Homo sapiens: one gene and its partner. The protein of the gene in region 1 interacts with the protein of each later gene in a pairwise test. Each region holds a gene or a part of one and is shown on either strand. Other genes may lie near its edges.

What was found.
Region 2: the proteins of TNP1 (region 1) and PPARD interact in a two-hybrid assay, tested with the Homo sapiens proteins (one study listed by BioGRID).

The regions. Positions count from the first base shown.
Region 1 is NC_000002.12:216,858,873-216,861,721, reverse strand, and holds TNP1 (spermatid nuclear transition protein 1), read left to right. Parts: upstream 1-1,657; 5' UTR 1,658-1,687; coding exon 1,688-1,826; intron 1,827-2,026; coding exon 2,027-2,055; 3' UTR 2,056-2,264; downstream 2,265-2,849. UniProt on the Homo sapiens protein: Plays a key role in the replacement of histones to protamine in the elongating spermatids of mammals.
Region 2 is NC_000006.12:35,411,735-35,415,557, forward strand, and holds part of PPARD (peroxisome proliferator-activated receptor delta), read left to right. Parts: intron 1-3,823. UniProt on the Homo sapiens protein: Ligand-activated transcription factor key mediator of energy metabolism in adipose tissues. Receptor that binds peroxisome proliferators such as hypolipidemic drugs and fatty acids.

The DNA of each region.
Region 1 (2,849 bases):
ACTAGCCTGGCCAACATGGCGAAACGCTGTCTGTACTAAAAATACAAAAATTAGCTAGGCATGGTGGCACACGCCTGTAATCCCAGCTACTCAGAAGGCTGAGGCAGGAGAATTGCTGGAACACAGGAGGCAGATGTTGCAGTGAACCAAGATTGTGCCACTGCACTCCAGCCTGAGCAAAAGAGAAGACTCGGTCTCAAAAAAAAAAAAAGAAAGAAACATTTTCAAAAGCAAAGCATTTACTATGAGGTGTAATGGAGGAAAAAGGAAAGGCTGGATGACTTATACACCAATAATCATTCAATATATCTATTTGTAAGTGTCAAAGGCACTTCAAAGCTGGTATGTCTTATACCAAGTACATGATCATCACTCTCCCCATGTCTGGCCTTTATCCCCATGAATGGCACCAGCATCCAGATAACTGCATTATACAGAAACAAAAGCCACACCCTTGACACCATCTGCTTTCACCTCCCAAATTCAATCCGTCACCAAGCCTTGGTCTCTTGTCTACTTTAGATCTCAATCAACACCTTTCCTGGCCAGACCTAAACCATCATCAAATCTTTCTCTCTGCTGAACCATTGATGTTGACAGTAGCATCTCCCTTTACACAGCTCCTCCAGTCAATACATCACCCACTTGGCACCCTCTAATCTCACATGCCATCCTCTTAACATTTTTAAAGGCTTCCCAATGTACTTGATCATGGTTTGATCTCTGTCTCTCCCTCCAGCCTCATCCTGTACCATGTAGGGAGTTTCCCTCTGCCCTTCTCCAGCCAAAATGACTCCGTAAGTACTTACTCACTGATTTATGTAGACATCTGATGAATGGCTTTCTCCCCAGTGGGCTGAGAGTTCCATGAGCACAGTATCTACGTGTGTTTATCCTCCACTAATTTTCTACCACCTAAATGTATGGCATATGCTATGTGATCAATATCTGTGACTGAATTTTAAAAAATGATTAGGTTAATTGTTCTGAACCAGAGCCATTTTTTCCCTCACTTCCCCAGCCTCCCAAAGAAACAGGTGGCAATGTTTGGGAATATTTTGGGTTGTCATAGCTGCCAGGCTTCTCTGGTGTCCAGTGGGTAATGGCCAGGGATGTTGCCAAACATCCTAGGGTGCACAAGACAGCCCACTGAAAGTTACCCTGCCCATTGTGTCAACAGTGCCAAGACTGAGAAATCCTGACCTAGATGAAAAAGAAGGAATATTTCTATTTTGATCATATTGAATTGGGTTCTGTAGAGTCAAGTCCTTACAGAAATAAATTTATTATCTCTGGATGCTGTGAGAGACTTAAACAGTCATGCATACACACACACTCAATGACTGTTACATTTCCTACAGGCAGGAGAAGCATATCTGAATGGTCTCTTGTACTCATCCAATGCCTGGCACAGGGCTGGGATTCAGTTTCTCAATAACACCTCTCTGGGAAAGCCTCACTTAACATAAAAAGGACCTCAAAACTGAGGGCAGCCCTTGAGCTGCACGAAAAGGACCACCTTATTTCACAAATGTGACCAAAGTGCAGCAAAGGTGAGTGACAGCACAGTAGAGCCCCGCCCACCTGCTGAGCCATGCCCCTTCCCTGTCACAATGGCCAAGGCCTTAAATACCCAGACTCCTGGCCCCCGGGCCTTGCAAAGCCCCTCATTTTGGCAGAACTTACCATGTCGACCAGCCGCAAATTAAAGAGTCATGGCATGAGGAGGAGCAAGAGCCGATCTCCTCACAAGGGAGTCAAGAGAGGTGGCAGCAAAAGAAAATACCGTAAGGGCAACCTGAAAAGTAGGAAACGGGGCGATGACGGTGAGTGAGGGATGGGGAGGAGATTGCCAAACTTAGGCACACATTGCTGCCAGGCCCTCCCTCTTGGAGGCAGCTCTCACAGGACCCTGAAATCTTGGCCTGAGATTATTTCCAATAACTAAATGCAGATTTGAGCAACAAGAGTCTTGATGGGAATGTTCTAATTCGTGTCTCTGTTGCAAACCTGTCCTTTCCCACAGCCAATCGCAATTACCGCTCCCACTTGTGAGCCCCCAGCGGGCTCTGCCCTGGTGCGCTTCACACAGCACCAAGCAGCAACAAGAACAGCAGAAGGGGAACTGCCAAGGAGACCTGATGTTAGATCAAAGCCAGAGAGGAGCCTATGGAATGTGGATCAAATGCCAGTTGTGACGAAATGAGGAATGTATATGTTGGCTGTTTTTCCCCAACATCTCAATAAAACTTTGAAAGCAGAAATGTTTACTTTGATCTTTTGGTTGGAAAGACTTGAGTTCCTGAGCTAGGTGGGTTTGGGGAAGAATTGGCCAGTATGAAACCATTAAATGTGACTTGGAAAATATCAAAAGTAATTTGTCCTCCAATTCCCTCCCACCACCGTGGGAGGTGGTCCTACTCTGGCCACACACTATTGCCGTATTTGTCTTCATCCCAGTGTGCTGTCTCTCTCCTCAACATGGAAAGGGAGAAGAGATAAAAAAGGGAGAAATGCATTCATTAGCATTAACCAAAGGATTCAAGCTGTTTTTGTTAGAGCTTAAACCAAAGGATGCAAGCTGTTTTCGTCAGAGCTTATAGCATAGAGGTGTTGAAAGCTAAACTAAATCTAAAGACTTGGCCCGGAGATAGAGATCACCTGGAGGAGCTCTTAGAAGCTCTTAATTCATTGATCATATGGGCAGTATTAGCAGGCTAAGAGATGGGAACACCTTCTGAACAGAGACCAACATGTTCTTTGTAAAGGATCCTATTGGTAACAGTGGAAGTGATGAGAGTTTAGATTTCTTTAGGTTATTTTGGTAGCTATGTTGGGCTTGAGGTGGG
Region 2 (3,823 bases), on another chromosome or scaffold:
TTTATGCAGCCAAGCAGTTGTAGCTTCTCCTGTCTCACTTATTGGTTCCCCTTTATTTATCAGCAGTGCAGACAGTTTTCTCTAGTACCCTGTACTGTTCTGTCATCTTCATCATCATCATGTTATGTTTACCTTCAAAAGCACCCAGAATCCATGCAGCCCCTGGCTTTCCCTGCTGCAGTTCCCCCTGCTTTTTTGTTTTTGTGGTTTTTGAGACAAAGTCTCCTTCTGTTGCCCAGACTAGAGTGCAGTGGCACAGTCTCAGCTCACTGCAACCTCTGCCTCCTGGGTTCAAGTGATTCTCCTGCCTCAGCCTCCCGAGTAGCTGGGATTATAGGCGTGCACCACCACGCCCGGCTAATTTTTGTATTTTTTTAGTAAAGATGGGGTTTCACCATGTTGGCCAGGCTGGTCTCGAACCGCTGGGCTCAAGCAATCCACCCACCTCAGCCTCCCAAAGTGCTGGGATTACAAGCAGGAGCCACCGCGCCTGGCCTGATCCCTCTGCTTCTTGCTTTCTCCCACCACTTCTCTCCTTACCCAAGTGCTGCAGGCCTGCACATGCAGCTCATCCTCGCTCCTCCCCTTAGAGGGAACTCAGGGTCATAAGGATATACTGCTGGGAGTAGACACCCTGCACTCGCTGCTGCTTTCAGCTGCAGGAGATCCTAGCCACAGGCGGTGACTCAGGCAGAGGAGCAAGCCCACCCCGCAGAAATGGGCTCTGGACCCCTGTGACTGCATGGAGCAGGAGGAGGCAGTTAGTGTCCAAGCTAAGGCAGGGTGAAGGCTGTGGAGGTAGCGCAGGCTCCTGTTTGGGTCTGCAGCTAAGATGGGTCTGAATCCTGGAGCCACACCACCTTGAACCTGCAAAGCAAGTCCCAGAATTTTGCAGAAGTTCTTCCTCTTCAGTGTATAGAGTTGGGTGGAGGGAGTATAGAGCCATCATTCAGTCCTTCTCATCTCACCCAGGATCACCTGGGAGTGACCAAAGTAGGCCAAATGTGATTCTAGGGCCAAAGTGAAGGTGTCCGCCATTCCCCGAGTAAGCAACTTCCTGTCTATTGGCTGGTAACTGGGATGGCTTTGGAGACACAGCCTGTCTCAGAAGAGAGGAACAGCTAACCAGGAGTGATAATTCACTCAGTGCCAGTAGCACATACTGTTCTAAATCTGAAGAAGGTAGGGAGGGTTAGAAAGCAAAGGGAAGACAGTGGGGACTAAGAATGAGTGTGGGATGTCATGAGGATTCAGGGGAGAATGCAAGGAGAAGAGACGGCCACAGGGTTTGTGGCTATGCCGCCTGCCGTGGCCCACCTCATCCCCACATCTGAGCCCAGGCAGATGGAAGTCCCCTGCAGAGCAGTGTTCTGTCCTGGAGTTTCCTCCACACCCCTTCTTGGGACCAGGGCTGTTTCCCAAATAGCATCACTGTTCCCGTGCAGGCCAGGTGAGGTGCCTGGGAGCAGGGGTAGGGTGAGGCAGGCATGGCGGTGACCTCTCAGGCAGCTTCGTTGTGGGATTTAGGGCACAGCGGGAAACGTCCAGGGCAGAGGTTGCCTCACCAGTCACATGGTACTATGTAGGCGGTGGTGTTTAATAGATTCTGTTTATCAATAAGTGGATGAAGTGGAGATAGACTTCCTTGTTCAGTCATTGAAACAGGAGAGAGGGTTACTTGACATAATCACTTTGTGTTAAAGCTGTAGTGTATGAAAAGTTCCCAAAAATTCTACAAGACAAGCAACCTAGCAGGAAAATCAGAACAGGTAACAGTAAGACAAATACGAATGGCCTGAAATCCCGACAGGTTTTTCAGTCTAACCAACTCAAAGAAAGCACCTTAAGTTGCAATGCCATTTCACCTGTCAGATGGGTGGGGAGGACTTGGTCCTCCCACCACCAGGGGTGAAAGGGTAGTGTGGGCCAACACTTCTTAATGTGTGATTCTTTTTTTTTTTTTTTGAGACAGAGCCTGGCTCTGTCGCTCAGGCTGGAGTGCAGTGGCACACGATCTCAACTCACTGAAACCTCTGCCTCCCGGGCTCAAGCGATTCTCCTGCCTCAGCCTCCCAAGTAGCTGGAATTACAGGCGTGCACCACCGTGCCTGGCTAATTTTTGTATTTTTAGTAGAGATGGGGTTCCACTGTGTTGGCCAGGCTAGTCACGAACTCCTCAGGTGATCCTCCCGCCTCGGCCTCCCAAAGTGTTGGGATTTCAGGTGTGAGCCACCACACCTGGCCAAGTGTGCATTTCTTTTACCCTGCATTCCCACTTCTAGGAACGTGTCCTGTGTAAGTACTTGCTCAGCATGCTCAGAGATTCCCATGCCAGCTTATTTACTGCAGGACTGCTCATAAGAGCAAAAATAGGAACGTGCCCATCTGTGGGGAACTGGTTATGTAAACTGTGGTAGAGCCATATGGTGGAATACTCTGGAGTCATTGAAAAGGATAAGGCTGGTTTATATATATATTAAATAAGTTCCTGACAAGTTGGGGATCCCATTGTTTAAAATCCTTATGTTTCATAGAAGGCACCGGAAGAGTCTATACCGAAGGACTCAGGGGCTAACTCTGAGGAGCAGGATCATGGTTAAGGAGGCTGTGTCATAAGATCCTGCATACCCTTCTGTGTTTTTCTCAACAAGTCTGCACTACTTCCATAATTTGAAAGGCAACTGTACTTTTTTTAAGGGTAAAATTAACTGTTTAAAAGGGGGGTGAGGATCTGGCAGGTGAGGGGCCCTGGAGACAGAGCCTGATCATGTGTCCAGAGCAGAAGGGCTTGGAGATCACAGAGACCAGGGCAGGCATCCCAGGTCTGTCACTGTGAGCTGTAGCCCTCGCCAGTGCCATCACTTCTCCAAGTCTCATTCTCTTCACCTTTATAGGCTGTGTCCTACCCAGCCTGAGGGCCAGCCAGGTGAGAGTCAGTGGGGGTATGTGACACATCGCAGGTCTCAGCACCTGCTAGTTCTCTGCCCCATCCCCATGAGTTATTACTTTGGCCTCGGGAGTCCCCTGAGGGACCCATAAGGACAGCGCACAGCTTTGAGCCCTGAAACAGCAGGAAGGCTCCACAGTCACCCCTGACCACCCTCCTCAGCAGTTCAGCACTGACTCTCAGTGCAGATATTGAGCTCAACACCTGCCATGCACCTTCTCACCCTCCCCCCAGCCAGGCAGGACAGACCTTCCCATCAACAAGGAAACTGAGGTTACCAGAAACCCACTTGCCAGGGTCCCCTGGGCGTGTAGGAGTAGAGACAGCTAGAGCCAGGATTCACCTCCCATTCCCATTCTCATCCCTCCTGCTTCAGTGACATCCATCCCAATCACCCTTGAGAAAGAGGAAGATAAAGTGTCCTTCCTCCTGGCCTCAGCACCTCCTCACTTGGCAAGCACTTGGTGGGCATCAGGCTGGGCCCAGCACTGTGCCCAGGGCTGGCCATACAGTGGTGGACAAGGCTGAGTGCCTGTCCCAAGGAGCCCACAGTTCAGGCAAACAGGACAGCAGAAGTAAAGAGGCTGCTCAGTAACCCAGCCTCAAATCCCTGCAGAATTTGGCCTGACTTCAGAAGCTGCTGGGTGCTTGTTTGCCTGTGAGCTCTGCCAGCAAAGTAAATAGACCAATCGGGCGCCTCCTGGCTGTCTTCACAGCCATGACAACGGCATTCTCCCAGCATTGGAGGCTAGATATGCAGGAGAGCTCTCAGCCACAAATGATGTGAATAAGGTCAATAGTGTCTATTTGCTGAACTTGTCATCAAAGATGGTGAAACTGATACTTTACTCTCTGGGTGAGAGGGCTAGTGTTTAC